3 separate regions of the Homo sapiens genome follow, and regions 1 and 2 are each linked to region 3. The links come from fine-mapping of genetic effects on gene expression. A gene starts in region 3. Each other region holds a variant in brackets. All regions are shown on one strand. Distances are between the middles of the regions. Region 1 overlaps WIPF3 (WAS/WASL interacting protein family member 3). Region 2 overlaps PLEKHA8 (pleckstrin homology domain containing A8). Region 3 holds the start of SCRN1 (secernin 1).

What was found.
Region 1: its variant is fine-mapped to the expression of SCRN1 in whole blood (INTERVAL, PIP 0.97).
Region 2: its variant is fine-mapped to the expression of SCRN1 in whole blood (INTERVAL, PIP above 0.99).

Annotation. Positions count from the first base shown.
Region 1 is chr7:29,912,253-29,922,695 of GRCh38, forward strand. WIPF3 (WAS/WASL interacting protein family member 3) reads left to right here. Exons shown (of 9, transcript NM_001080529.3): 9 at 2,241-4,809. The coding sequence ends at 2,264. SCRN1 (secernin 1) reads right to left here. Exons shown (of 8, transcript NM_014766.5): 8 at 7,857-10,443. LOC124901827 (small nucleolar RNA U13) reads left to right here and starts at 276; the gene lies at 276-380. The variant G/C (reference allele first, on the strand shown) is at 5,818.
Region 2 is chr7:30,065,394-30,075,836 of GRCh38, forward strand. PLEKHA8 (pleckstrin homology domain containing A8) reads left to right here. Exons shown (of 14, transcript NM_001197026.2): 13 at 8,678-8,739. Among named protein-coding and RNA genes, the nearest start is that of PLEKHA8, 42 kb to the left of the region's middle. The variant A/G (reference allele first, on the strand shown) is at 6,131.
Region 3 is chr7:29,987,461-29,997,402 of GRCh38, forward strand. It overlaps SCRN1 (secernin 1), which reads right to left and starts at 2,341. Exons shown (of 8, transcript NM_014766.5): 1 at 2,182-2,341. It overlaps FKBP14-AS1 (FKBP14 antisense RNA 1), which reads left to right and starts at 1,196. Exons shown (of 3, transcript NR_187577.1): 1 at 1,196-1,333. RefSeq lists silencers at 1,568-1,687, 1,778-2,047, 2,058-2,107, 2,128-2,467.

The sequences.
Region 1 (10,443 bases), 75 kb before region 3:
TGCTATCAAAACAAAACAAAATAACAAGTGGTGGCAAAGATGTGGAGAAAATGGAACCCTTATGCACTGTTGGTGAGAATGTGAAATGGTACAGCTGCTGTGGAAAACAGTATGGCAGTTCCTCAAAATATAAAAAACAGAATTACCATATGATCTGGCACTTCCACTTCTGCGTATATACCCAAAAGAACCTAAAGCAGAGCCTGGAAGAGATATTTGTACACCCATGTTCATAGCAGCATTATTTACAATAGCTAAAATGTAGAAGCAACTTGATCCTCTTGTAGTTCATGAGCGTGATGATTGAGTATTCATGTGCATGTGTGAGATGTGCCACTCTCTGAACCTTGTTACAACCTTGGCACATTACCTGTCTGACCTGAACTTGGAAAAATAAAGTAAAATGTAGAAGCAACTCAAGTATCATAGATAGATGAATGGATAAACAAAATGTGATACACGCATGTACAGTGGAATATTATCCAGCTTAAAAAGTAGGAAGTTCTAAAATATGCTTCAACATGGATGAACTTTGAGAACATTATTCTAAGTGAAATAAGCCACTCACAAAAGACAGACACCATATATGCCTCCATTTACCTAAGTACTTACGGTAGTAGAAACAGCAAGTAGACTGGTGCTTGCCAGAGATTAGAGGGAAAAAGAAAATTGAGAGGTATTGTTTAATGGGTACAGTCTCAGTTTTACAAGATGAAAAGAGTTAAACAAAAGTGGGTACTGATGATTGGTTGCAAAACATTATGAATGTATTTAATACCCCTAAACTATACACTTAAAAATGATTACTAGTCAGCTGGGTGTGGTGGCTCATGCCTGTAATCCCAGCACTTTGGGAGGCCAAGGCAGTCGGATCACCTGAGGTTGGGAGTTCGAGACCAGCCTGACCAACATGGAGAAACCCCATCTCTACTAAAAATACAGAATTAGCCAGGCATGGTGGCGCATATCTGTAATCCCAGCTACACGGGAGGCTGAGGCAAGAGAAGCGCTTGAACCCGTGGACGGAGGTTGCGGTGAGCTGAGATCACGCCATTGCACTCCAGCCTGGGCAACAAGAGTGAAACTCCGTCTCAAAAAAAAAAAAAAAAAAGGTTACTAGTGTAAATTTTATGTTATTTATATTGTACCACAATAAAAATGGAGAAAAAATGTTAATAGGCATTCACTCTAGAAGACTATGGCTGATTTGTACTTTCTTCTTTTGGCGTTTATGCAATTTCCAAGTTTTCTACAATGATTATATTATTCCCGTGACCAGGAAAATATAGTAATAATCATAATCATGTTCCTTCATATTCGTATGGCTCTTTACATTTTTCAGTTAGCTTGCATATGTTATATCATCTAATCCTTTTAATAACCCTGTGATGGAAGCTGGAGAGATACCTTTAATGCCATTTTTATAAAAGAGAAAACTTTCTAGAAATTTGAAGAACTTGCCCATGTCACAATGCCCAAACCTTCTGACCTCTTGTTCAGTGCTTCTTCCATAATGCCTCACTGCTTTTCCTGGCATGTTAGAATCTCCAGGGACAAGAATCCTCCTCACTACCAACGTGTCACACACTGTGCAGGATCTGGTCTCCAGCCTCACGGCAGGCATGCACCCAGATCACCTGAGTCTGGTGGTTTTGATCTCCGCCTGCAAGTCTACTCAAAGTGGATTGTAGTCTCCTTTGGGCATTCCACAGTCAAGAAGATCTTTGTATCTCACTGGATACCATCTTAATTCTCACTGCAGTGAGACACAAAACAATTGAGAAATCACTGGGTTCTAGACATTGCAAACAATACCCCAGGGACTGCTCTTTTTTATGGCTAGAGTGGTCAGTGCATGGGGTGGGAGCCCTGGGCTGGAAGTCTGAATGCCTAAATCGGTTTCTTGCTTTTCCACTGCCTTAACTTGGGGTCTCCAGCACGTTTTTTTTATTTCTCTGAGCTTCCTGTCAAGTGAATTGCTGATGATTGGTTCTATAAATGTTTATAAGACAGTATTAGGTCCTCACATACCATCAACTACATACCCCATTTCATCTGGTTTCCACCCACAGCCCCTTGGGTAAAAGTCAGCTCTTTGCATAGGCATCTCCCCAAACTTGACAGCCTTGCATGAATGAGAAGCTTCGGGGCCCAGCCTGTTTGGGGGGGTGGAGGAGGAAGGCTTTCATGTGCAAGAGTCTTCTAACTCCACCTGGTAATGTTCTGTTATGTTTCCACAGTTATCTCTAAAGACTCTTCGGTGAGAAGACAGATGAAGCGAAGGTCCTGGGGTTCCAGGTTGCAGAACAACATGTCAGACCCCACCCACCCCATGCTCAAGCTGTAATTCAGTTGGCATACAGGCTTGGAATTGAGAATTTATTTATTGTAAATATGTGATTTGCACGGGCTTTAAAGCAGTATTTTAATTGACTTTTATTTCGGTAATATTTTTTAAAACACCCCTCATTTTTCCATTTTTTGCATTGCATCTTGGCATTTGTCAGCACAGATAGAGCCCTGTCCCTCCACCTAGTGCCCACTCCATGACTGTGAATCTGCTTGCAGGCTGGCCCTTCCTAGATTCTGAACCGTTTGTAGAGAGTCCTTAGTTTGCAGGTAGCCCCAAAGTTATAAATATCCACAACGGCTTCTTATTGGCATAATTTCATATTCTCATCACACTAACTGCAAAATCAAACCAAATAATGCCTTATCAATGATGCAGCTCAGAGGAAGTAGCGTGTCCCCCACACCCAGACAGTGCCGCGCAGCCTCCAGGGAACGAGGTGCCATGTCTCGCTTCCATTTTGCAGTACAGGGAATTTTTTTTTTTTTTTTTTTTTTTTTTTTTGCTGCCTAATGTAATACATCACAAAGTAAAGGCAAGAGTGGGCTTGGCCCTCCGATGCCAACCACAGGGCCCCTTTTGTAACTGAATAATCCTCCAAGTAGCCAGTGCTCCTACTGTTTACAGTGTCCCTCGTGCCCAAGTCTCTGTCACTTTCATCCTGTTCCCTCCAAGTTCCCAGTCCCATCCCAGTAGCCAGCTTTATGAGATTTTGGTATTTCTTCCCTACAGATTAAAAACATACACAACTCATCATTATGCTAAACTACCAGTTGTATCTCAGAGGTCTCCCCTTCTGCCCTTGCTTCGAGTGTGGACTTCCATGGAAAATATGACATGAAAAAGTGTAGAACGAAACATCGTGTGAAATACCTGCCACAAATACCTAGTGCCTCACTGCCCCCATCTTAGGATCCTTGGAGCCACCCGTCAGGCAAAACCTAGCTCCCTTCTGAGCTAAAGGAGAACCTTGCCTGACAACTCCACATTCATTCCCTTGTGGTGGGCACCTGTCTGTGGGGAGATGTGTGCAAGCTCAGCCACTCTGAATATGGAAAAGGTCAGGCCGGGCTGGTCCTGCTCTTCACTCCCTCTTCTTGATCCTGTAGGGAGTGGAAATGTGTTTTTGCTTGCTGCCTGACCCCTGATGTTCCCCATCTTTGGTCGGGGAAGACTGTGACAGAGGAAGGAGAAAAAATAGAAGGAAACAGACTGATCCCTGGGCTGTGCTCAAAATAGCTGCCCTTTAAAGGAAATCAGGCAGGGAGGGGAGGGAAACCAGCGAAAAAGAAATTTGCTTTGCAACAACCCACGCACACATTCACCCCTGAAGTATATCATGAACAGACCAAGCCATCCAGAAAGGCAGCCGGTCAGGAGGGTGTGGGCAAACATGACTGCATCTGCCTCACTGTTGTCTGGAGTAACGACTCAGGTGGTGTCCTGCAGCAGTGCTGTGCTTTCTCATTCCAGATGGAAGCAAGTGAGCCAGGGTCAAATTCCCTTCTCCAGGGGAATGAATCAAGCCCAAACTGTAACAGCTAAATAAGTAGAAGTTTTTGCAGGTCATCAGCTCTGGGCATAACTAATTTGTTTTATTGGTTCTGGAAGATTTCCAAAAAGCCAGAATTTATTATTATAACAGTGTCCACTCCACTGCCCTCACAGTTGTGTAAAATAATTATAGAAGTTTTAATGATCCTGATTAAGAAGACCCTAGACAAAGGCAATTCCACCTTCAGAGTAGACTGCCTGCCCTAATGAGGTGTTTAGACATTCGTGTCTCCTATGGCTGGGATGGAAATTAAAATAACACTATTTAAGGACAGAGCGGGCCAGGAGCAGTGGCTCATGCAGGTAATCCCAGCATGGGAGGCTGAGGTGGGTGGATTACTTGAGGTTAGGAGTTCAAGACCAGCCTGGCCAACATGGTGAAACCCTGTCTACTCAAATACAAAAAATTAGCCAGGCATGGTGGCTCACACCTGTAATCCCAGCAACTTGGGAGGTTCAGGCACAAGAATTGCTTGAACCCTGGAGGTGGAGGTTGCAGTGAGCTGAGATGGCACCACTGCACTCTAGCCTGGGCAACAGAGCGAGACCCTAACTCAAAAAAAAAAAAGGACAGAGGGGAGGAAGGAGCAGAAACCAAAAATGGCAATTAGGGAGAAATCTCAGGAATGTGGCATCCCATCTCCCCTTGAGACCTATCACTGAATTCACAACCCTTCGAGCTCATGCTGGTGCACTGAGTCCCTTGGGCGCTGTAAAGGTTTAACCCCTTGACTGTAAACTCAGACTTAGAGACATCTGAGTCACACAGTCCCCGCCATTGTCACATATTCTCACTGACACTGCAGTCTGTGACTCCTCCAATGTTTCACGTGTATTTTATATTTATTGATGTCTCCTTCCGCAGATTCATTTCTTTGTACTTAATAAACTTTAGTAAGTGGAAATGCTTCCAGTCGTTTCCTTGTTAAAACCCATCGGTGGTCACCAGTATCAATCTAAACCAAACATTTTTAAGGATCAGGAGAAGTTGAAGTTCTAAGAATGATAGAAAAAAAATAGATATTTACATGGATACGGTGCTTGCTGTAACATACTGTGTTAGAAACAGGGCCTTTCTTTCTTGAGCTAACTAGCCTAATTGGTATTTGGAAAAAACAAGCAAGAAAAAAAAAATTTCTCAGGTGCATTTTTTAAAAAGTAGATAACACTATATTTATTCAGTTTGATTAACACAGAATGGGCAGTGTATTGCTTATAAATTCTGCTAAATTGTGTTGAAATAGAACAACCTTCCCTCTACGTGCACTTAGTCCCCACTCCCAACTCAGCAAACCCCCCAAAAAAGCCTCCTGTAGGAACAGAATCATCTTGAATCCCCCTGTAGTATTTTAAGGTGGACCTTTGGGAACAGGGTTCAGGGGAGGTGAGATTTATCTGCTAGGCAAGCTATCTCAGAGCTAGTGCTTAGAAGGCAAACCAGGATCTGAATCTCCATTTTGCCTCTTACAAGTTGCCTCTTACAATCTGTGCCTCAGCTTCCTCATTTGTCAAAAGGGGACATAAATATGTACCCGAGTGTATATTGGTGAAGATTCAATGATGTAATACACATGGGCAAGCCCTCAACCCTTGGATCACAACGGAGCCAGTGATGCACACCCTGCACCCCGGGGAGCAGCCAGTTTGCTGGTTCCATGCTTGGGCACAAACAGGGCTCTGCTGGCTGCATCCCAGGCACTTCATTCAGTATTTGCTGAGCTACTCAGACCACACTTCACTAACTCTGCTGCTGGATAACAATGAGAGAGCAGTCATTAAAATTCATAGATGTTCCTGAAATAAATCTCATCTAGAAACTAATTTCAAAGCTGGTTACTACACACTTTGCATCAGAATTAGTTAAGGGGCCGTTTTATTGCTCTCTTATTGGTGGAGGTACAGATTGGCTCTTT[G/C]ATGGCCAAAAGGGCCAGTCTGAATGGGGAAGAAAAAGTAAGGGCCGAAGATAATCTACAAAGTGGATGATGAACTTCAGAGTCACATTGAGCATGGCCGTGGTGAAGTAGCTAGAAGTGTAAGCACCTTTTATGGAGCTAAGTGTGAGAGACGTGCTTCCTAGAGAGGGAGCAAGTTAATGGGAAGGGCCATGGACTCCAGAAGCAAGTTCCAAATTCTCAGACGGTGCCCCGGGAGGCTTCAGCATCCTCCACCCACCCATTCTGTTATGGGTCGAATTGTGTCCCCACAAAAATCCATAGGTTGAAGAAGTCCTAACCCCCAGTACCTCAGAATGTGACCTTATTTAGAAATAGGCCCATTGCAGATATCGTTAGTTAAGATGAGGTCATACTGGATTAGGGTGGGCCCCTGATGCGATATGACTGGTGTCCTTATAAAATGAAGAAATTGGACACAGACATAGACACAGGGAGAACGCCACATGAAGATGAAGGCAGAGATAATCAGGATGCTGCTTCTATGGGTCCCAAAGTGCTGAAGATTGCCAGCAAGCCACCAGAAGGTGGGCAAGAGACATGAAACACATTCTTTCTCACAGCCCTCAGAAGGAACCAACCCTGCAGATGTCTTATTCCTGGGACGTCTGGGCTCCAGAACTGTGAACCAGGAAATTTCTCCTGGTTACGCTGCCCAGTTTGTGGTACTTTGTGACGGCAGCCCCAGCAAAAGAATACAGGCTTTGTCACCCAGAGCTTTGCAGGAGGGTACAATGTTTATGAAAAGAGAGCTGGGAATAAAATTTCAGAATTAGCAGCTCCTTATCATGTAAACAGAGCAGTCATCTACCCTGACCTTGAAATAGGTCATTCATTGCAGGTGACTAAGTCCTATCTTCACGAGCAAGACATTCAGTTGCGTTTTACCTGTCACAGTGGAGAGTCATGGAAAGCAAGCTGGCATTTCTGGGTCACAGGAGTGAAGAGAGCTGGCTTTTTCCCTAAGTGGCATCCTCTCCTGTTGTGGCATTGCTGATGCCTTGGAATCAAGATGTCTGGCACAGAGTACCAGCCACTCTGATGATCTAGACTTCCATTCTAATAACTATGGTAAAATACACATAAAGTCTACCATGCTTACCATGTTTAGTGCTTAATTCATTCGTGTTGCGTACATTCATATTGTTGTACAACCGTCACCACCATCCCTCTCCATAACTTATCTTGCGAAACTTTCTGAAACTCTATACTCATTAAACAGTAACTCCCAATTTCTCCCCCACCTCCAGCCCCTAGCAACCACCCTTCTAATTTCCGTCTCTGTGATTTTGACTGCTCTAGGTACCTCATAGAAATGAAACCATATAATATTCGTGACTGGTTGATTTCACAGAGCATAACATCCTTAAGGTTCATCCATGTAGCATGTCAGAATCTGCTTCCACTTTTTAAGGATGAATAATATTCCATTGTATGGATAGAACACATTTTGTTTCTCCATTCTTCCATCTGTGGATATTTGAGTTGCTTCCAGATTTTAGCACTGTGAATAGTGCTACTATGAACATGGGTGTGCAACCTCTCTTCCAGACCCTACTTTCAATTCTTTTGTGTATACCCAGAAGTGGGATTGCCCGATTATACAGCAGTTCTGTTTTTCATTTTTTGAGCAACTCCATACTGTTTCCCACAATGGATGCACTGTTTTACATTCCCACCAACAGTACATAAGGGTTCCAATTTCTCCACATCCTCACCCACATTTGTTATTTTCTGGTTGTGGTTTTTTGTTGTTGTTGTTGTTTTTGTTTTCAATAGTAGCTATCCTGACGGGTGTGAGGTGATATTTCGTTGTGGTTTTATATTTAAAGACTGAATTTATCCACAGAACATTACATGATGCAAGAAACTGCTGAACTGACTGTTTTCTAAAGATTCTAGCCAGAAAAATATATCCATTCTCATACATTTTCTATATTGCGACTGAGGCCCACGTTTATTCACGAGACACAAAACAGAAGAGGCCACTCCACTGGATGTTAATTTCAGTTTTTTTTATTGTATGCTTGATGCATTTAGAGACAATTCCAAGGGCAAGCACTGGATAGGGATATTATCTGCTTTGTAGATATTTGTACAAAAGACTGTTAAGACTACATGGCCAGTTCCCACTGCAGGAAACAGAATGATTTTCTTTTTTTTTTATTATTATTCCCTGCCAATAGCATTTTCCATCTAACACATTTAAATTCTCACAGCATAATTGCAAACATGTACATATTGGTTCCCACGAGAAATCTGCAGGTGACATTTCGGGATGTTTGGAGTCAATCAGATAAAGCACATTATGACAGAAACCATAAGAGGGGAGCTGGGACCTGGGACTGTGCAGAATGAAAAGCCACGGCTACGGGAAGCATAAGCTTGTGCTGCAACGGCATGTGCACATGACCTGCTGCTCCTGGCCCTCTACGAAGCATGCCCAGCAAGGGAACCTCCTCCGTCCCTCCTCCACGTGCTTCCTTCCTAAGGCTGAGAGCTCAACTGAAGACCTTCCCCAATAAATGACAGATGGCTCTTCAGTCAGGAATGCAGTTAGTGGTTTCATGACAGACACACTGGTCCCACCCGGCTTCCCTGCTGAACCACCCAGTACTGAATAACACCTGTACCAATGTGGGATGACATCAGCTAGGAAGCAAAGTAATTTGCCTGGTTGATGATTATTTTTTATACCTAATGATTCACCCAATAGTAAAGGAACCCCACAGCTAAGGTCTAACAGGCATATACCTGCTCTGTTAGTTTATAAGAAAGACTCGTTCTAATAACACCAGGTCTTATATTATTGAGCACTAAGGAACCTCCATAATTTCGATTATATTCTACCTAAAATTTCAAAGCACCTCCAAGAATGAAAGGGTACTATTTCTGCTTTGCTAATTTACTCCTGCCAGAGCTTCTGTCCTTGAATATGAGGGCTATCTTCACCTATAGTAAATCCCATCTATTAGACAAGACTAGCTAGCTTATGTTTGGTTATGGGGCAAGGGAGTGGGGGAGAGATTCTGTCCTTTCTGGCTATGGCTTCTTTCTGCACAAGCATGCTCAGCCCCCACCCCAGTCTGAAAAGATACACAAAGGGTTTCCTAGGAAGCTACTTATACACTATGACCCTTAAACATAATTTTTGTATTTCATCTTGAATATTCATGTTCCCTATACTGCCTTCAGAAAAGCAATCCCTGGTCCACAAATTATTCATGTAACAAGCATTTTTCAAAAGCAAAATCTGTTAGGAACATTTAAAAATGAACATTCCTCACTATAACAGCCTGCTCAAAACCCAACAACCTATTTCCAGCTGTTAATATAAGTACATAAAGTCACTAAAAGTAAGCGCAGCCACATCAGCAGATTCTCTGCTCTCTTGTCGTCTTTCTCCACCCATCCCAATGCACAACTGTCAACTGTGCTTATAGACCACCTCCAGACCTGATGGGAGCTGCCACACCCCTTTTAACTTTTGCCAGGCTGTACCATGCCCTCTAGTGGTAGGACTAGGACATCACAATTGTGGTGCAGAGTATTAGCCAAGACAGCTCTCAATTAGGGTTGCCTTCTTTAAGATGCTTGACCAAGGTCAATGTACCCTAACAGAAGTAGCCATTGTGTTTCCCAATGGGTAATGACATAAAGCGGGTAGGGTTATCCATGGCCTTTGTTTGGCCCATAGAAATGAAAGGAGGCTTCTGTGTAATTAATTCTTACTAGACTTCTTTTGATCAAATCCTGAATCACCTTGGTTATCTCAGACATGTCAGGTCTGATGAGACATTTCATAGTAGGCGAAGGTGAAATCACTCAGTGAGATTTTAGAGCAGCTTTCTGTATCATCTTGCTTTACATAGCCACTTGGAACATGGACTTGGGAGGGGAGAGTTACCTACGTCATCCTCGAACCTCACTTTCCCCCCCCCTTAACAGTGATAGAAAGACACTTTTAGAATAGCCGCCCCACCTAAAAGGACACTCTAAATTCACCAACAGTGAAAGCCCAGGCCAAACCTGCGTGAAGCTCTTAGCAGCTACAGGCCACCATTATTGGTTGCCATTAACTCTGTCAGCTGAAATCGTCTTCCCATCACCCACAATGTGTGGTTAATGATTTTATATACAGAGTTTACAAAACTGCTGACTAAAAAGCTCATGGCACTCCTATACTCACGCTCTGGAGAGTTGGTAGAAAAAAAGAATGTGTTCTGATAAAACCTCTGATCCTCACTGTTCACATCCATGTAACAGGGCTCGGTCCCCTCAAAATCTCATGATACAGCTTCTGGGAAGGAGTTATTAACCCTGTCACTTCCCAGATTGCTGATACTCACAATGTTTCCATTTGCAGATTCCTGCCAAGAATGATGAGGCAGGATTAGGCCCAACTGGTGCTCTCCCACTAGCTGCTGTATTTACATACACTTCTGTTCATCATCTCTGCCCGTTTCAGGAGTAGCTGAGAGCTTGAATAGGTGGCGGTAAGCTCCCACCACCACCCCATGCCCAGTGCAGCTACCCGCCTGAATGAAGGCAGCTCCTGGGACATGTGAGGTGTGAGGAGTGGGGGGA
Region 2 (10,443 bases), 78 kb after region 3:
CCCTCCAAAGTTCCCCTGTTAAACCCACCCTCCCCTCCCACAGACACAGACACAACAAGCTCTGCGTAAACGGTTTTTTGAGAAATGTTTACACAATAGTTACTCAGAACCTGTAGGCTCCTTGATGCATATTTCTTCTGGGATAATGGTTCCTTTTTCTCATTTTGAAGTCCCAGCCTTCATAAGTAGAACTGATACCTTGTTTGAAATGAGGGAGGGTGAGTGAGTAGGTAAAAGAGAGTGTGTGCAATTTATATGCCATATATAGGCAAGTTTGTTGGCTTTTTTAAATTCTAAAGTTGAATTTAAAAACAGCTATCACTTACAGAGCACCCAGTGTAACTACTACACTAAGTTTTTGATAAATATTTTATTTAATCTTCCAAATACTCTCCAGTGAATAAACTGAGGTTTAAAGAGGATAAATACCTTCCCTAGGGTCTCAAAATCTCCATCGGTGGTTCTCAAGCTGTTCCAAGGTCAGCAGCATCTTTATCACCTGAAAACTCATTAGAAATGCAGACTATCCGGTTCCACCCCAGACCTGCTGAATCAGACACTGAGGCTGGGGCCTGGCAGTCCGTGTTTTAACAAGTCTTTCAGATGATTCTAATCCATGCTGAAGTTTGAGACCTAGTCATCTAGACTTAGGCCTTTGAGGTTCACCTGTCACTTGTCTACATCTTGATAATTTTGTGATTTTGACTGCATCTAAGAGATTTTTAATAAGCAGGAGTAAAACTGCTGAAATTAGTTATAGCATCAGTTTATTTTCCTCCTTTTCATCATAATTAGACAGCTTTCCAATAAAAATACTGCTTAAGTAAGGTTTGAGGTGAATGTTCATGAAACTTGTATGGTCTTAATGGCCTTGGAAATAGTACATTTATATGTAGAAGTCCTAAATAACATTGTAGAAGCCTTGTCTCCTTTACCTTTCTGGAAAATGCATCTCTAGTTATTGTATTGCTGCAGTTCTGTGACCTGGAATACTTCCAGCATCTGGAAGGAGCCTTAGACTTTACACTGCCCCTTTTTGCACTTGAGCCATCACTTGGCTTCCCCATAATGATAATCAGAGTGGAACATTTTGGGTGGTTTCATGCTAAGAGCTGCTGTGTTCCCTTAGTGTCCTAACATTCTTTAGAGGTCATTTTCAGGAGGGAGTTGGGTTCACAAGGCAGATATGTTTAATAATCTGCTTTAGAGCTGAGTCCCCCTCTCCATTGCATATTCCACATCAGAAAGAGGTTTTGGAAAGCATCCTTGCAAGTGGAAGGAAGAAAAGTTGCTCTGGCATTTCATGCACCATTGTATTAAATGTTATATGCTCTGTGCTCAGTGGGATAACATATTGCCACATATCTCATCTCAGAATGATCCCATAAATGTCAGTAAAAGTTAACCCAACCAAGATCCTTTTCTGGCACAGAATAGAAAAAATTTTAAAAGGATGCTCAGTCATGTATTTAATATGAAAGGCTTTCACAGATAAGGAGAGATAAGTGAGAGAGATAAAGTCAGAACTCATAATCAGATATTTGACATCAAATCATAAGTTGGCCATTCTGAAAATACTATGGAATGTGAATTGTAATACTCTTTCCAGAACCATTTGCAGCATATGCCTCCACTGGCAGGATTGGCTGGCAGCACAAGCGTTAGTCTTAACAGTGCCTGAAATTAACAAAGGGCATCTCTGGGTGCTTGTTTGACCTCTTTCCACTGGTTATTGTCCATACAAGTCAATTTGCCTTAAGCATAGTCACTATAAAGAATTCAGAGGTTACTCTCCTAGTAGCTCTGCTTTTAAAAATACATGCCAAAGCGCTTTGGGAGGCCAAGGCAGGCAGATCACTTGAGCTCACAAGTTCAAGACCAGCCTGGGCAACATGGCGAAGCCCTGTCTCTTCAAAACATTCAAAAATTAGCCATGTGTGGTGGTACCAGCCTGTAGTTCTAGCTACTTGGGGGCCTGAGGTGGGAGGATCACTTGCGCCAGGGATGTTGAGGCTGCAGTGAGCCATGTTTGCACCATTGCACTCCAGCCTGGGTGACAAACCAAGACTCTGTCTCAAAAAAGAAAATTATAAATAATTTAGGCATTTAACAAATATCTACCACTTGACCTAATAGAAAAAAATAGTTCAATACAGTTAAGTGCCCACGTGTCACTCCTTAATCCCGTGACTCCCATCGTTTTCCAGAGATCATCATCCTGAATTTGCGTAGTTCATTATGTAATACATGTTTTTATGCTTTTGCTATATATTTATGTGTCCATAAGCAGCATCTAGCATTGGACTACATGTTTTAAACTTGTATATGAGGTATCATATTGTGCACATTCTTCCTTCTTCACTCAGTATTTTCAGACTTTAGCCACTGTTGAAGTGGCTTGTAGTCCTGGCTCATTAATTTTCCTTGCTGTTTAGCATTTCATTGTATGAATAGACCATGGTTTCGAAAAACTAATATACTGTTAATGGACACAGTTGATTACAGATTTTCACCATTAAAAGCAATTCTACAATGTACACGTTCCTTTCACACATGTTCTCTATCATATGGAAAATTATGTCCAGACAGCACACCAGAAAAAGGAGGAGGCTTCTCATAGCTAAGAGGGACTGGTCCAGGGACTCTGGCTGTCTACAGACTGGTAGTTCATGGGGCCTTACTGCTTGAGAAGCTGTGCTGCCAGAACAGTGGTTCTCAAACTCTAACCTGTATTAGCCTCACCTGGAAGGCTCCTTGAAACACAGATTGCTCTGTAGGCCTGACTTGAGGCTGAGACTTTGCATTTCTAACAAGTTCCCAGGTGATGCTGAGGCTGCTGGTTTGGAGACTACACTGGGAATTGCTGCTGTAGTACATAATACAATTGGAATGGCTGAACCACATGACTAGATATTGCCAAATTGCTCTCCAAAGTCTATAATTACCAGCAGAGTAGTGAGAGTTCCCAATACTCCACATTCTTTTTAGCACTTGTCATTGTCAGCCTTTTAAATTTGTGCCTGATGGCTGTAAAATGATAGAATATTGCCAAAGTTTTTGTTCTTAGATTACAAGTAAGGTTGAGTAGCTTTTCCTGTCTTCACTGGCAGTTTGATATCCTTCTCTGTGAGTTGCCTGTTCATGTATTTGACCACCTTTCTCTTAGGTTTTCTTTATCAACTCCTGGGAGTTCTTTATATTTCCTGGATATTAATCTTTTTCAGTGATGGGTTAAAATGTCTAATCTTTTTCAGTTATGGGTTAAAATGTCTTCTGTCAGTCTGTGGCTTGCGTTTGCTCTTTATCTATGGTGTCTTTTGGTATACAGAAGTTTCAGTTTTTATGTAATCAGACATGTCATTCTTTCTTTATGGATTGTACTTCTTAAAGAAATCCCTCTCTCCCTTGAGGTCACAGAGATGTTCTCTGACATTTTCTTCTCGAAGTTTTGTAGGTTTGCTTTCATATTTATGTCTTTAATCTTCCTGGAATTTATTTTTGTGAATGGTGTAAGGTGGGGATATAATTTTATTATTTCCAATCAGAAAGCCAGTTGTCTTAGCAGCATTTATTGGATCACCCATTCTTTTCCCCACTTGTATGTAATACCAACTTTGAGAGAGAGAGAGAGATCTGTTCTAGACTCCATATTCTGGTCCATTGTTCTTTTGCCCACCTATGCTTTAAAAAGACATGAGTTATAGGATGAAGGTTCTTACTATTCTAAGTGAGTTACTGGACCGTTCTCTCTAGAACTCGTAGGATCTTAGGGCAAGCACACTTCCCCGGTGCCTATCTGTTTCCCACCAGCCTCCTGCCAGACTTGACTACCTGCTTTCAAATCTCCTGGTTCCTAATTCTTGCCTCAGAACTGTCTAGTTGAGCACATTTGCAGAACTATGATTGTCATTTCCTCAGCCCAGTGAGTAATTCCGCCCTTTCTGGCTTTGGTTCTCTACTTCCCAGGCTTTCTCTTAAGACTTAGATTGACATTTCTCTCGTCTTCTCTATAAGCCAAAATAACTTTACCAATTATAGGTTTACAGTAGAAAAACACTTTCCTGTATACAAAGTTCCTGGACAGAATGGTTGTTCACCAACAGTAATGGAAGGGTTGTTCTCTCAGTTACTATAAAAGCTTTAGGCATAATCTCTAAATACCTGATAGCAAGTTTCTGAGTTACTAATAGTAAATGAATGAGAGCTGTGCTGTTTCCATAACCAGGTGCCAATTCTTTCAGAAAAGGATTGGAAAAGGCATATTTTTCATTTTTATTACATTGTTTACAGAGTAAACACCAGTTTTTTTGACAGAATGGTGTGATGCAACAAGAGTGTCCCCAGGTCTCATTGCTTTTAACTTTGTGACCTTGGGAAAGTCACTACCTTTCTGGGTCTTCCATGTCTTCATTTCTAAAAGGAAAAGAATTAGGCAAGGTGATTGTCAAGGCTTCCTACTTAGAAATTTTGACTCAGTTTCTGGGGAACTGACACATCTCAAAGAACTGGGAGAAGGGTATCATTTATGTCTTTCAGAGGCCAAAAATACTCCCAGATTATAGAACATGCATGATGATAATGAATGGGTATTACAGTGAAGATTAATGTATTTCATTATCTAATCTTCTCTAGGTAACCAAAATAGGTCAGGCTTAGACTTCATCTTATTTTAATGCCATCAGTCTCACATGGCAGGGATATTTGCAGCGTAGAAGTCAGCTAAGGACTTTGGGAAGTGTTTTTTTTTTTTTATGACTTTTATTTCATTTGTTGGTTTTAAATTGCAGCAATGATCTCAGTCAAGACCCAGCCCAAATTCTTTTGACACACCTTCTCCCATTAGGTCATCTGGCCCACATTTTGCCAGGTGGAACTCTCCTTTGGCAAGGTATAAGCATAACAAGGAACAGCTTCTTTGTCTACTAGGGCCAAGTGGGAAGACAGATGTGCTGCTGTACAAACACTCTCCCATCCTTAAGCCAGACTCCCCATGCTGTTTGGACTCACAGCACCTTTGTCTTCCTTGTCTTTTTGCTGTCTTTTAGAAGAGGGCATGGAAAAGAGTTTCTAGGCTTTTTTGAACGGTTAACTTGAATGGCAATGTATAGGAAAGGTATAAGGTCTCTGAGGTTGGCATAGCAGCGAATCCAGAGCTTTTTTTTTTTTTTTTGAGACAGAGTTTCTATGTCGCCCTGGCTGCTGGACTGCAGTGGCGTGATCTCGGCTCACTGCAACCTCTGCCTCCCAGGTTCAAGCAATTCTCTGCCTCAGTCTCCCGAGTAGCTGGGATTACGGGCACCCACCACCACACCTGGCTAATTTTTATATTTTTAGTAGAGACAGGGTTTCACCGTCTTGTCCAGGCTGGTCTTGAGCTCCCAACCTTGTGATCCACCCGCCTCGGCCTCCCAAAGTGCTGGGATTATAGGCGTGAGCCACCACCGTGCCTGGCCCAGAGCTCTTTTAAACAAGCATTCTGTCTAGCCAGGTGGGCCTTGGAGCTGGAGGCTCAGGCACCAGGATAGCTGTTACTTGCTACAGACTGTAAAGAAGTGTGAATTTCAACTTGTTATTTCCCTACCACAATTCTGAATCAGAATGATCATGACTTTGCTGACAGAAGAAGGTAATGTTCTCTGTACAGGGGGAAAAAACTAGCAGAATATTTTTCCTGAATACCCACTGTGGTTATCTCTGGGAGAAAGGATTATAGGTTTCTTTAGTTCTCTCCTTTTAAAATATTTTCCTTATTTTCAACAACGGACATCAATCATGAAACCCAAAAAAAGCGATAAATGTTATATTTTTCAAAACTTCCACTGTGCCTTAGGTGGAAGATCAGAATCTTTGACATGATGGATAAAGGTCCTCACAATTTGGCCCAACCCAGTTTGCAAGCTCTGGTGTTCTTCAGATCCAATGAATTTTGCTCACCATCGCCCAGCATGCCATGAGCTCTCACAACGCTGTGATGCTCGCTCTGTCTGCCGCACCATCTACCACTCTGCTCTCTACCCTACCCAGCCTTCGGGATTCCTTCTGAGAATTCTTTGTGTCCACACGCCTCACCCCCAACCCAGACTGGATTAGTTTCTCCCTTCTTACTGTTCCTGTAGCACTGCATACAGAT[A/G]GCTACTCTAGCAGTTATTGACTTATACAATAATGATTGTTAAATGACTGGCTCTTCTATAAACCATCAACTTCTTGAGGACAGGGAATTGACTGAATTTAAATCACCTAAAGATACTACTGTGTGGTAGACTTGCCCTGAATTCTTGTTGAATAGAGCAGGTGTTCATGGTAGATATCCACCAGCAGATTTTAATGGTATTTCTTTATTTATAATGGCATTTAATGCCCTGCATGGAATACTGACACAAGAAAGAAAGGATTCACAGTATCTTACCTTGGTAACTTACCTCAGGATGTTTTCCATGGACCTGTACACCCTCTTGCCAGCCCAGATGGCTGCTCAAATGGTTGAAAATTTGGTTGTCTTGCTGGTTTTTATCAGAGGCTGTACCTAGTATTCTCTGCCCATCTGTACTGTACGCTTTGTGAATCAGCAACCCCTTTCTTCACATTTCTCAGGATATCCTCACTAAGGTCTTGTATGCCATCTGAAATTTCCCTGATGCCATGTCTTCTTACAGGGAATCACCTACGTTTTGTTTGGTTTACATTGAAGACATGTATCTTTGATCATGCCCTAGTTTACTCAGACTGTTCTCCTAAGAAAAAAGTTTAATTTTGGGTTCTCCTTTAGGCTCTAAGAGTCTTCTTCATACTTGAATGTATTAATTATCACTTATTGCTTCTGCTTTAGCTTTAACACACTGGATACTGGCATTCCAGCATATTCCTAAGCTTTAGAGAGCCAAAGGAATCTGTTGTTCTATTTCACATGTACAGTCTTTTATATAAAATATATTGCAATATGTATTGAGTATGTATTTTATATAACATATAATTGCATTTTGTGAAAATTTGAATATGTAAAATTGAAATAGGATATTCTAAAAGTATTAATAAAGCCTCACTCCAATTTTAAAATAAAGTTGACTAGAATGACATAATTTCAAAGCTGGAAGGCTTGAGTTGATTGTAAACTGGGTTGAAGCTGTAGCCACATGGCAGTGCCATTTTGGCCAGTAAAATGCAAATAAATACCTGACTTCCCTTGGCAATGTCCTGTGAACCACGTTGCTTTTCACTGCATAGGAACTTGTACTTGTGGTTTTAGTGTCTGTTTATCTGTTATTTTAACATCTTCTCTTGTTAGAATTGAAAATATTTTTGTAGGCTTAGAATGTCACACTAAGCATTCATGAAATGGTGGTAGTACTTGTGCTGGTGCTAAAACTAGCACATGAAAATAAATATGCTTGGAATAGAATTTAGATATGGAGAAACATGAAGAAGGTCAAATAGCCCCCATGGTACACTGTGCTGTTAATTTAGAAATGAGTGCTCTGTTGCTACTGGAGATGATGCTTAGGAAATAAAGTGGAACATTGAAATAAAAATGCACCATGGTGATGTAGATCTGTGCCTCCTGAGAATGCATTTAATCCTGTGGAGAAATCAGTTTTGAATTTTGCATATATTGAATTATTCAAATTTCAGGAACGCATCCTTTGCATAAAATGCATCCATCTGGTTCTTGGGATTTTTTTCATAATTAAAATTATGATATGCCAGTTTCAAAATCTCCTTTTAAAATACATTGGGACAAAAATTATAGATTAAAGTATGAAACATGAATGGCTTTTATTAATATAGTTCTCACCAATTACTTTAGCTTAATAACTTCAAGCCATTCTTTCCATAAATATTTTTGAAGGTTTCTAGCTTAAATACTGTATATCCAGGGTCATAGGGTCATTTAGGACAAACATTTGGCATCCCAGAATAGAATGTTAAAATTGGAAAAAATCTTAGAGATTATTTTACAAAGGAGGAAACAGATGGTTAGAGAGGGCAGCTAAGGGACTGGCTCACGGTCACAGAACATTTCAAAGTATTTCTAATTGTATTGTCTCAATTTTTCAATATCCTTTCCTCCCTCTTTGTTTCTTTATATGTATTGACCTTTTCCCACCATGATAATAAGCTGAAGTTCAGATATATTGATTGACCCAGAGTAAGAGTGGAAGTATTTGTGTTTCTTAAAAAAAAAAAAAAAAAAAAAAAAAATTCCATGTGAGCTTTTTTACTGCTTTAGATTTTTTGGGTCCAAAATCTTGTAATTAGATTTTTTTCATAATTTCCAAATACCAATAGTATCGTGCTACTATGCATTATACAAATATGGCCAAGAATGGTGGTGCACACCTGTAGTCCCAATGCTTTAGGAGGGCAAGGTGGGAGGATCACCTGAGCCCAGGAGTTCCAGAACAGCCTGGGCAACATAGCGAGACCTCATCTCTACAAAAAATTAAAAATAATTAGCTAGGCATGGTCATCCACACCTGTAGTCCTAGCTACTCGTGGAGCTGAGGCAGGAGGATCACTTGAGCGCAGGAGTTCAAGGCTGCAACTATTATCACACCACTGTACTCTAGCCTAGGTGACAGAGCAAGACCCTGTCTCTTTAAAAAAAAAAAAAGTACATTATACAAATAGCACATCAAATTCTGATGAAAGTGTTCCTCATGGAGTTTTTCTTCTTTTCAAGATAATGCATATGGTAAAACATTGCGGCAACACCATGGCTGGGTAGTTCGAGGGGTTTTTGCGGTAAGTGATCCTTCTTGTCTCCTATTATTAACTGTATTGGGTATGCCAGTGGCTAGGGCTAGAAATCTCTTCTTACCCAGTTATTTATCTAGTCATGATTGTCAGAAACAAAGTTGTGTGTGTGTGTGTGTGTGTGTGTGTATGTGTGGTGTTTTTGTTTGCTTTGTTTTTGAGGATAAGAACAAAATGTTATTTATTTCATTTACGTTTATAGGCCTTTGGTGTGTGGAAATGTCAGCAGTAAAAAGTGTCTGGAATAGCAAAGACTGTTAAAGAAATATGAATAAAAGAGTTGATGCTTTACCCTAGCCAATTCTAATTACTCTAGCCAATTCCAATGACCTTGTGAAGATTTGCCTCATAAGTGGTTGCCTTTCTGATAAGGTAGTAAAAAGCTTAAGTATCCTAGCAGAAGTACGTAGGAAGCAGTGATCCTAAATACTTATCATTGAAGGGAAATGATGCATTCAGGTGATGAAGTCAACCTAATAGCTCCCTCTGCTGCCCATTGTATTCATTCCTTTTAATTCTTAGGTCTTAGTTGATTTTTTTTTCACTAATTGAATTTTGTCCTTGAATATTAACTGTATTGGGTGTGCCAGTGGCTAGGAGGGCTAGAAATCTCTTCTTAGCCAGTTATTTTCATTGTGAAGGTGTTTTGTATTCATGTGTTTTGGCTCTGATTACCCACCACCCTCTTCTTCCCAGCATGTTTAACTAGGAAGAACACAAACCTGAGACTCTTAGTCTCCTGGGGAAGTCACTTAGACTGCTTTATAAAATAGCAGGAGTAGATGGCTCCTTTATGTCAGCAATACACTCTGTGATTCTTCCCATCCAGGAAAAGGTCAGTCTTAGTCAAATCTAGTCATGAAAAGGCAGTCTCATGCAGTTGTATGTCAGGAAACCTCATAGAATGTACTCACATTCTTTGGAAGGTTGGGGAATAAAGTAGCCTTGCAGATGGTATCTTTTACTGATGTAAAGGATGCATCATTTGCCTAAAGAAAGAACTGTTTGGGTCGTGCTTTATTAGGGAGGGCGGTAAAGTGGGAAGAATGTACACTACAACAAATCAGATTCTAATGAAAATGAAATATTTTTTGAAAGCATGGAGATTAAAGCTCCATATCCCATTCACTGTTCACTGGGATAGGTGCTGGACCAAATGAAGCTACAGACTGCTCACCCTTACCTTCAATACACCTTGAATAATCATAATGGCTACCATGTAGCTATTGGACACTTGTTGTGTACCAGGCATTCTTAACAGGTACTTTCATATTCTTTATCTTAATTCTCAGGATTAACTCCCACTATTTTACAAATTCAGAACAATTAATTCCAGTCCCCAAGTACCAGAGTGAGGCTATGTCAGAGCCCAGGTCTAAACTCAGATCTGTTATCTCCAAGGTGCTAGTGCTTACCTCCATTAGAGCTCTCTGCAGTGAAGACACAATCACTGAGAGGCCTCTACTGAGTTCTTAGGCAATGGATGCTCACTGTGGTCATTGATCTCCCTGAATGAATATTGTGATTATTGTGATTGCTAGCTTGTGCCTGACACTTGAGTTGCCCCAAAACAAGTGTGGGGGGAAGGGTTCAGTATAGAATGCAAAATTTAATCCTGAAATATTGATGATCCCAGAGATATTGTCAATAAGAATGCAGCTATAGTAGAAAACTTATCAGCATAAATCTTTT
Region 3 (9,942 bases):
CACAAACACAAGCAACTCAATTTTTAATCAAAAAATGTACTTCTTGCCTCAAAGACTTTACTAAAATAATGTTTTTGGTTCTTAACTATAGAAACAGTTTCACCACTGGAAAATGTGAACATGAGGTAGATACAGCTTAAGAAGTTAAAAGTCTTGAATTAGGAAATTAAGGTGTTGTCATTGACTTTAAACACCTATAGACTTTGTAATTCATATTACAGTTTGGCTTCCCATTGCTCGAAGTGTTTGCCTTCCTAATAATGACAGACTTGCTGTTCTCCCCCAGGCTCTAAAAGGTAGCATGTGGAACCCGGGGGAGTTATGAGACCTGGATTTGGGTTCTCACTGCCAGTTGACAGCCAGATATATGATCTTGGCGTCCATTCGCCCCGCTGGCCTCAGCCTTCCTGCTGTAAAAAGGGGGTTGACAGCAGGCTCCTTAAGACTGCCTCCACCTCTGCCCCCCGACCTTAGCTCATCCTCCTCTATTCCATTATCCCTGAAGCATTTGCCTCCTCATGTATCTCCTTCCCAAAAGACAAGATGGCTGGCAGCACGGAAGTGAAAAGGGAAAGAAAGGCTGTTTAAAAAAAAAAAATTCTAAAATGAGTCACCTTTCAAGAATTTCCCATTTCCTCATGCCTGGGTGCTTCCTCGTGTCGCTAAATCAGTTCTTCCAATGAAACTTGATCTAAGAACCTGGTATTTGTTATGTGCACTGCTCTTGGATGATGTTTACAATGTGCACACATCTCTTTTAAGAGCTTGTAGGTATCAAACGACCTCCAGGTTGTGCATCAAAAAGACATCAGCAGCCACAGAGTCAACTTTAGTTGAGCCTGGAGAAAATCATACAAAACCGTAGAGTTTTAACTAGGTTTTGTATCATCTTTTGATAAGTTAGGAAAAATAATTACAGCTCTCCAAACTTCCCACTTAACAACTCCCAGGACCCTGCAGCACCCTAAAATCTAGCCAGCTCCAAGAATCACTCTCTACTCCATACCCGGATGAGCCTTGACTCACACTAATTCCCTCCCTGAGGCTTAAGTCAGGGGGCAGCTGATGGTTGTGGTCTGTGCTGCTTCCGCCTGGCCTATTTTTCATGCTGCCATTTTGAATTAGCATAGGTTTCCTCCGCAACTGATGCATCTTCTAACCAGGCTGGGAACACAACACGCGCACACGCGCACACACACACGCACGCACCCACCCCACCCGGCTGCCGGACGCAAGCGTAAGTCAAGGACTTGCATGCTAGAATCAGACAGAAAATCCAGAAAAGCCACGTTATTTAACAGAACCCTACAAGGTCAGCTTTGAGTCAAAGCAGGTAACAGTTTCCTTCGATGTTTTCATGGACATTTTTATTCCCAAATCCGAGTTCTCGCCAATTCTCTAAAGTTCAAGCGCCCCTCCTGCTTTGCAGACCACATTTCTCTCGGCCCTCGCGAGTGAGGTCGCCAAATACTCGACGCCTCAAGAGCGAGCCGAGGAGGCAGAGGCCGACCAAGCCGGCCTCTCGGCAGCCCCGCCCGGCGCCCCGCGGAGAACGCCCGGGTGCGGCTCGAGGGAAGTTGTGTCAAGTCCCACGCGCGGCCCGCGGAGAACCCAGGGGCGGCCCGCGCGCGTCGGCCTAGCGGGGAGGGCTGCTCCGGGACACGGTGCGGCGGCCGCGGGCGAGTTGGACGCGCTGGCAGAGCCGGGCCGAAGGCGGCGGGCGTCTCCGGGCAGCCATGTTCGCGGCGCCCGCCCGCGCAGCAGGTACGGCACCTCGGGGAAGGTGCCCGGCTCGCCCCAGACCCCAGGGTGGCGAGGCCAGGGGCCCACAGGCACATCCCAGTGGGCAGCAGGTTGGCTGCCAGGAAAAGGAAACCCAGGAAGAGCAGCGCGGGGAACCCGGCTGCGGTGCGGGAGCCCGGGGCCGGCATCCCTCCACTGCACCCCCGCAGTCCCCGAGCCGAGTCACCCCGGCTTCAGGCCGAGGCCACCTCTCCTCTGACCGCCCCCAGGCTCCCAGCCCGCCCGGGCCAGCACCGGGAATCGGCCTGGGGTAACGCTACCCGCGGGTTCGGAGGGACAGCGGGAGGAGATGAAACGCAGGAGGTGGCGATGGCGGGTGGGGTGAAACCGCCGGGAAAGCAGCGCTGCAAACGCCCTGCGCTCCCAGACGCGGCTCACCTGGGGCGGCGGGCTCCGGGCTCCGCTCTCCGCTCTGCGGTGCTGAGGCTGCGGCCGCCGAGGGTGCGGGTGCTGCCGGGTCCGGATTACTGCGGCGACCTCGGGGGCTGCAGCTGCAGTGGCGGAGGCGGCCGCCGGGCGCTTCCCCCTACCCAGACTCCCGGCGCTGGGGCCCGCCGCCCCCCGCAGCAGCTGGCCCGACTCACGTGACCGCGGGCCCACCCTCCGCCTCCCCCACCCCGGCCCCCGGGGCCCCGCCGCACCCCGCGCGTCTGGCTGCACGGGCCGCGGCGCTGCTCACCGTCGAGTAGGGAGGGGGCCTGGGAGCTGGAGGAGCGGCCGAGAGGGCGTATCTCGCCGCAGAAAGTGGCCCCCTCTTTGCTAGATTTTTATTTCTTGGTTGTGGCTCTCAAAAGGGAAAACCCGGGCTTCAAGGAGCCAGGCCCAGCATCCTTTTGGCGCCTCTTCCCGACGTTTGGTTGCTACGTCCGGGCCTCGGCGCCCACACAAGATTTCCCCGGAGAGAAATGTGTCCTGTACCTTGTTGACTCGCACGTCCAAGTCGAGTCCCTGGTTTTAAAAGTGCCGTCCTGTACCATGTTGGTAAGCCAGACCCTGTCCCAGGTACTTGGACATTGTGGCCTAGAGAGGTTAAGTAACTTGCCCAAGGTCACACAGCACGTAACTAAGCCAAGATTCCATATCTGGGTTAATAAAGTTATGTACAGGGACTTGTGTGTTGTGTGTCTGTGTGTGTGTGTGTGTGTGTGTGTTGATGCCAGCGTCAACTCCATCTTTTATAAGTAAATAAGAAAAGACTATCTCAAAAGATATGAAGACGTAATTCAGAGGAAAATAAATGCAATTCTATCCTGGCACACGAAAAGATATTCAGGCTCACTTAACTGCAAATCAAATATGTGGGGTAGCATCTTCCACCAGCCAGATTAACAAAAATCAAAACATTTTGAGTCTTGCTTTGTCGCCCAGTCTGGAATGCAGTGGCAGGATCTCGGCTCACTGCAAACTCCGCCTCCTGCCTCCCGCCTCCCGCCTCCCGCCTCCCGGGTTCAAGCGATTCTCGTGCCTCAGCCTCCCAAGTGGCTGAGACTACAGACCCACGCCACCAGCCTCGCTAATTTTTTTTGATTTTTAGTAGAGATGGGGTTTCACCATGTTGCCCAGGCCGGTCTCAAACTCCTGAGCTTAGGCAATCCGCCTGCCTCTACTATCCAGCTTCCTTTAAAAAGGAGAATGATCTTTATTTGCTAATACAAAACTATTTCCAACCTATACTAACTAAAGAAAAATAAAAAGCTAGGTGCAGAACGTTGTGTGTGTTATTTGTGGGAAGAAAATATATATGTATGTCTGTACTTATTTTTGTAAATGCACAGAGTATCTTTGGAAGAGTACGTAAGAACCTGTAATAGATGCCACCAGGGAGCAGAACTGGGAGACTGGGTGCTGGGGAGAGAAGGAGACTTTTTTCCATGCCCTTTGAATGTTGAGCCTGTGCTTACAGTCTGACACATGAGTAAACGGATAGTGGGGAAGGGCTGAGGAAGTTGGTGTAGGTACTGCAGAATAGAGCATTGGTTCGTAGACTCTTGGAGCACAAAGGTACTTTACTGTTCTTTTAGTCTAGCCAAGAAAACTGTAGCCAATGAGTCTAAATAATCAATATTAGAAATTTCTAGCGGGCTTATTCCTGGGTTCCAGCCCAGATCTATGGAATTCAGAGTCTCTGGGGCTGGAGCCAGGGAACCCGCATTTTTCAAGCTCTTTAGTTGTTTCTCTTGCATGTTAAAGTCTGAAAGTCCGTGAGGTGTGGGTAGGGAGAGCATTAGGAAAAATAGGTAATGCATGCTGGGCTTAATACCTAAGTGATGGGTTGATAGGTGCAGCAAACCACCGTGGTACACGTTTACTTATATAACAAATCTGCACATCCTGCATATATACCCCAGAACTTAAAATAAATATTAAACTTTTTTTAAAAGTCTCAGAGTCGCTGTTTTATTTTTTGTTTGTTTTGAGATGGGATCTCGCTCTGTCACCCAGCCTCGAGGGAAGTGGCTCACTGCAGCCTCTACCTCCTAGGCTCAAGTGATCCTCCTACCTCAGCCTCCTGAGTAGATAGGACTACAAGCATGTGCCACCATGCCTAGCTACTTTTTAAAATATTTTTGTAGAAATGGAGTCTCACTATGTTGCCCAGGCTGGTTTCAAGCTCCTGGACTCAAATGATCCTCCTGCCTTAGCCATCTGAAGTGTTAAGATTACAGACGTGAGCCACCGTGCCCAGCCAGAGTCACTGTTTTAAATGTCTAGTTTAAGACTACACCACTACTAGAAAGGCAAATGCAATCCTGTGCCTTCCTATAGCCAGTATATGTCATTTGTTGTGTAAAGGATGGCACTTGCACCCTACGCTGCTCCCCTGGAGGCAGCCATATGCTCAGTACACGGATAGGGGATACTGCCAACCTGCCTGCCTGGCCTGAGATCTTTGAAGCCTGTTGGTTTGTCCCTACACAGCCACAGGAGCTTTGAGGCCAGGAGCCCAGGAACACATGGAGATTGAAAGACACCTGCTTTCCCCAGGGTCTGCATGGAGAAGCTTATTATATGGCACTATGAACGCTTATTAAACAGCAGCAATGACCGGGCATGGTGGCTCATGCCTGTAATCCCAGCACTTTGGGAGACCAAGGCGGGTGGATCACGAGGTCAGAAGATCAAGACCATCCTGGCCAACATGGTGAAACCCCGTCTCTACTGAAAATACAAAAATTAGCTGTGTGTGGTGGTGCGTGCCTATAATCCCAGCTACTTGGGAGGCTGAGGCAGGAGAATAGCTTGAACCAGGGAGTCAGAGGTTGCAGTGAGCCAAGATCGTGCCATTGCACTCCAGCCTGGGTGAGAGAGTGAGACTCCGTCTTAAAAAACAAAAACCAGCAGCAATACACTTATTTTGTCTCTGCTTTGTATCCAAAAGACAGTCCCTACTATTATTTGAGCTGCATAAATAGAGATAAGAGAACAGAACTGTCCAACAAATGTGGAGAACACCAAGAAATATCAGTAAGGGCTTTAATCATTGGCCTCTATCAATTATGTGAGGTTTAACTTTGAGTAAATTATAAGATTTCCATGAGCTAGCTTGCAAGGAAAAAAAATGTCTTAAATGACTTGCAACTGTTACACGGTCATTTATATTCCATCTAGTCATATTCAGAGACTTAAGAGCTAAAAAATACAAGTATAACAGATTTCCTTTTTTCTCTTCCGCCCTGAGAAGGACATGATCCCTACAGAGGTTACTCTCTGCAGCTGAGGCAGAAGGAGATTATAGCTAGAGGCTGTCTGCTAAACATGTCTGGAGGGTACACTCAGTGATGACCACAGATACTAATAGTGTTTTCAGTTTGGAACAATTATGAATAAAGCTGCTAATAATATTTATCTACAAGTTTTATGTAAGTGTAGGTTTTCATTTCTCTTGGGTAAACATTAGATTGGTGCAAAAGTAATTGCAGTTTTTGCCATTACTGTTTTAAAAATGGCAAAAACTGCAATCACTTTTGCACCAACCAACCTAATACTTAAGAGTGAAGTGGGTGAGTCATACGGCAGGTGTATATTTAAATTTATAAAAAGTTGCCAAACTGTATTCCAAAGTGGTTTTTACCATTTTACATTATATCAGAAATATATGAGAGTTCCAGTTGCTCCACATCCTTATCAACACTTGCTATTATCAATCTTCTAAATTTTATCGATTCTCACAAATGTGTACTGAAATCTCCTCGTGGTTTTAATTTATATTGCCTTTTTTTTTTTTTTTTTGAGACAGCATCTCACTCTGTCTCCAGGCTGGAGTGCAGTGGTACGATCTCGGCTCACTGCAACTTCTACCTCCCAGGTTCAAGCAATTCTCCTGCCTCATTCTCCTGAGTAGCTGAGACTACAGCTGCACACCACCATGCCTAGCTAATTTTTCTATCTTTAGTAGAGATGGGGTTTTACCATGTTGGCCAGGATGATCTTGATCTCTTGACCTCATGAGCCACCCGCCTCAGCCTCCCAAAGTGCTGGGATTATAGGCATGAACTACCATGTCCAGCCTATATTTCTTTGCTGATTAATAATGGTGAGCAACTTTTCCTATACTTGTTAGCCATTCATATATGTTCTTTTGGAAAGTGTTTAAGTCTTTTGCCTGTTAAAAAGTTTTATATTTTTAATTAGTATTATTATTACATGTTAAGAATTCCTTATATCTGGATACAAGTTCTTTATCATATTTATGTATTACAAATATATTCTTTCAGTATATGTCTCGCTTTTCATTAGTGGTGTCTTTTGAAGAGAAGATTTTAATTTTGTTATGCTCAATTTATCAATATTTTTTCTTTTATAGTTAATACTTTTTATGTCCTAAGAAATTTTGCCTACTCCAAGGTTGCAAAGATTTTCTTCTATGTTTACATCCAGAGATGTATAGTTTTTTAGCACTTATGTTAAGACCATGGTCCATTTCAAGTAAATTTTTGAATAAGTGGAGGTAAAATTCCAAGTTTATTTATGTGACTATTCAATTGTTCCAGCACCATTTGTTTTCCCCCAGGATTTACCATGCTATTGACAAAAGTCAATTGACCGTGTAAATGTAGGTATATTTCTCAACTCTCTCTTCCATTCTATTGGTCTACATAATTATTCTTTTTTTTTGAGACAGAGTTTCACTCTTGTTGCCCAGGCTGCAGTGCAATGGCATAATCTTGGCTCACTGCAACCTCCGCCCTCCAGGTTCAAGCGAGTCTCCTGCCTCAGCCTCCCAAGTAGCTGGGATTACAGGCATGTGCCACCACACCTAGCTAATTTTGTATTTTTAGTAGAGACGGGGTTTCTCCATGTTGGTCAGACTGGTCTCGAACTCCTGACCTCAGGCGATCTGCCCACCTCGGCCTCCCAAAGTGCTGGGATTACAGGCGTGAGCCACCATGCCCGGCTATGTATTTATTCTTATGCCAATACTATACTCTCTTGATTATTATAGATTTATATCAAGTCTCGAAGTCAGGCAGCTTAAGTCTTCCAAGTTTGTTCTTTTTCAGAACTGTTTTGGCTATTCTAGGTACTCTGCACTTGGTTATAAATTTTAGAATCAGCTTGCCAATTCCTATACAAAATGCTGACTGGAATCACATTCAATCTATAGACCAATTTGAGGAGAATTTACATCTTAATAATATTGAGTCTTCCAATCTATGAACATGGTATATTTCTCCATTTTTTTAGGTTGTCTGTAAGTTTTCTCAGCAAATATTTAGAGTTTTCAGCATACAGGTCTTGGACATATTTTATTTAATAATTATTTCATGTTTTTGGGTGTTATTGTAACTAATCATTTTAAATTTTATTTTTCAATTGTTCATTGCTAGAATATAAAAATGCAATTGGTTTTTGTATATGGACCTTATATCCTATGACTTTACTAAATATGCTTATGAATTCTATTAACTTTTTCATCATTTGTTAGAATTTTCTCTGTACTCAATCATGTTGACTAAAAATACATTTTTAGTTATTCCTTTTCAATCTATTTGCCTTTTAATTCTTTTCCATATCTTATTGCATTTGCTAGGACCTACTTAATGCTATAGAGGAACAGTGAGAACAAACAAGTTCAGTCATTCACCACTAAGTATGATATTATTTGTAGAGTTTTTTACAGATACCATTTATCATGTTGAGGAAGTTTCCTTCTTTTCCTACTTTGCTGATAGTTTTATTTGTTTTTTCATTTGTTTTTAATGATGAATCAGTGTTGAATTTTGTCAGCTGCTTTTTCTGCATCTATTAAGATGATGAAATGCTTTTTATCCTCTATCCTGTAAATACGATAAAATACATTAATTGATTTTCAAATGTTTAACTGCATTTGGGGGATAAATCTCAATTTGGTTATGATGAATTATCTTTTTTATATATTTCTAGGTTGAATGTGCTAATATTTTGCAAAACATTTTTGTGCCTATTTTTATGAGAGATATTGGCATATAGATTGATACATAGTATTCTTTTCTGGTTTTGGTGTATAGGTGATACTGACTTCATAATATAAGCTGGTAAGTGTACCCATCTCTTCTATTTTCTGAGTATTTGTAGGACTGGTATTTTTCCTTCCTTAAATATTTGATAGAGTTTGCTAATGACTTCATCAACCTGGAATGCAGTTTTGATTGTGAAAATATCTTAAAGTATGAATAAATTTCTTAATTGACATATGGTTATTCAGGTTTTTCATTTGTCCTTAAGTCAATTTTGATAAATTGTGTCTTTCAAGGAAATTGTCCATTTCATGTAAGTTGGTGAATTTATTGGAAAAAATAATTTATAGTATTTCTTTATTATCCTTTATTATTCATAGCATCTGTAGCAGTGTCTCCTCCTCTGCACTTCTCTAGGAAATTTGTGTCTTTTTCTTTTTAAGGATTAGTCCAGTAGAGATTTATTGATTCCTCTGATCTTTTTGAAGAACCAGTTTTCAGTTTCACTGATTTTCTCTATTGTTTAAACTTTCTTTTATTTACTTTGAGTTTAATTTGCTCTTCTTTTTCTAGCTTCTTAGAACTTAGATCATTGATTTTAGATTCTTTGTCTTTTCAAAGTATATGTAGGAATAAACCTTTACCTTTAAAAATAAACTTTATATAAGTATATAAAGATATAAATTCCCCTCTAAGCACTGCTTTAGCATCATCCTCCAAATTTGATATGTTATGTATTAGTTTCTTCTGGCTGCTATAACAAATTACCACAAACTTGGTGGCTTAGCTCAAAACAACACAAACATTTCCTCACAGTTCTGGAGGCCAGATGTCTGAAATCAGTATTACTGGGATGGACTCAAGGTATTGACAGGATCTGGCACCATCCAGAGGCTCTCAGGGAGAATCTGTTCCTTGCTTCTGTCAGCATTTGGTGGCTGCTAGCATTCCTTGGCTTGTAGCCACATCACTGCAATCTTCTAGGCCAGCATCTTCCAATCTCTCTTTCTGTTCTGTCTTCACATAGCTTTCAAAACTCTCTGTGATCAAATCTTCCTGTGCCTCCCTCATAAGGATACATATGATTGCATTTAGGGACCGCCATGCTAATCTAGGATAATCTTCCCATCTCAAGATCCTTAACCTAATCATATCCATAAAGTCCTTTTTATTGCCATATAAGATAATATCACAAATTTCAGGAATTAGGATGTAGATATCTTTTAGGAAGCCATTTTCCTCATACCACATGTTGTATTTGCATTTTCATTCATTTTATTTCACTTCATTTTCATATTTTCTAAGTTCTCATATTTCTTTTCCCCATGGGTATTTTTGTTTTATGGCCTAGCTATGGACCATCTTGGTGAATTTTCCATGTGTGTGTTAAAAACCTGTGTATTCTGCTGTTGTTGAGGGTACTGTTTTATAAAAATCAATTAGATCAAGTTGGTTGATAGCATTGTTCAAGTCTTCTATTACGTATAGATTTTTTTTTCCATATTTGTTCTATCAGTTACTAAGAGAGGATTGCTGTAGCCTTGAACTGTATTTGTGGATCTTTCTATTTCTTTTAGTTCTGTCAATTTTTGCATCTTGTATTTTGAGGATCTGTTAGGAGGTACATACATACTTAGGATTGCTATGAATTATTTTAAAATGTCTCTTTTTTCTCTCTGGTAATATTTATTGTCCTGAAGTC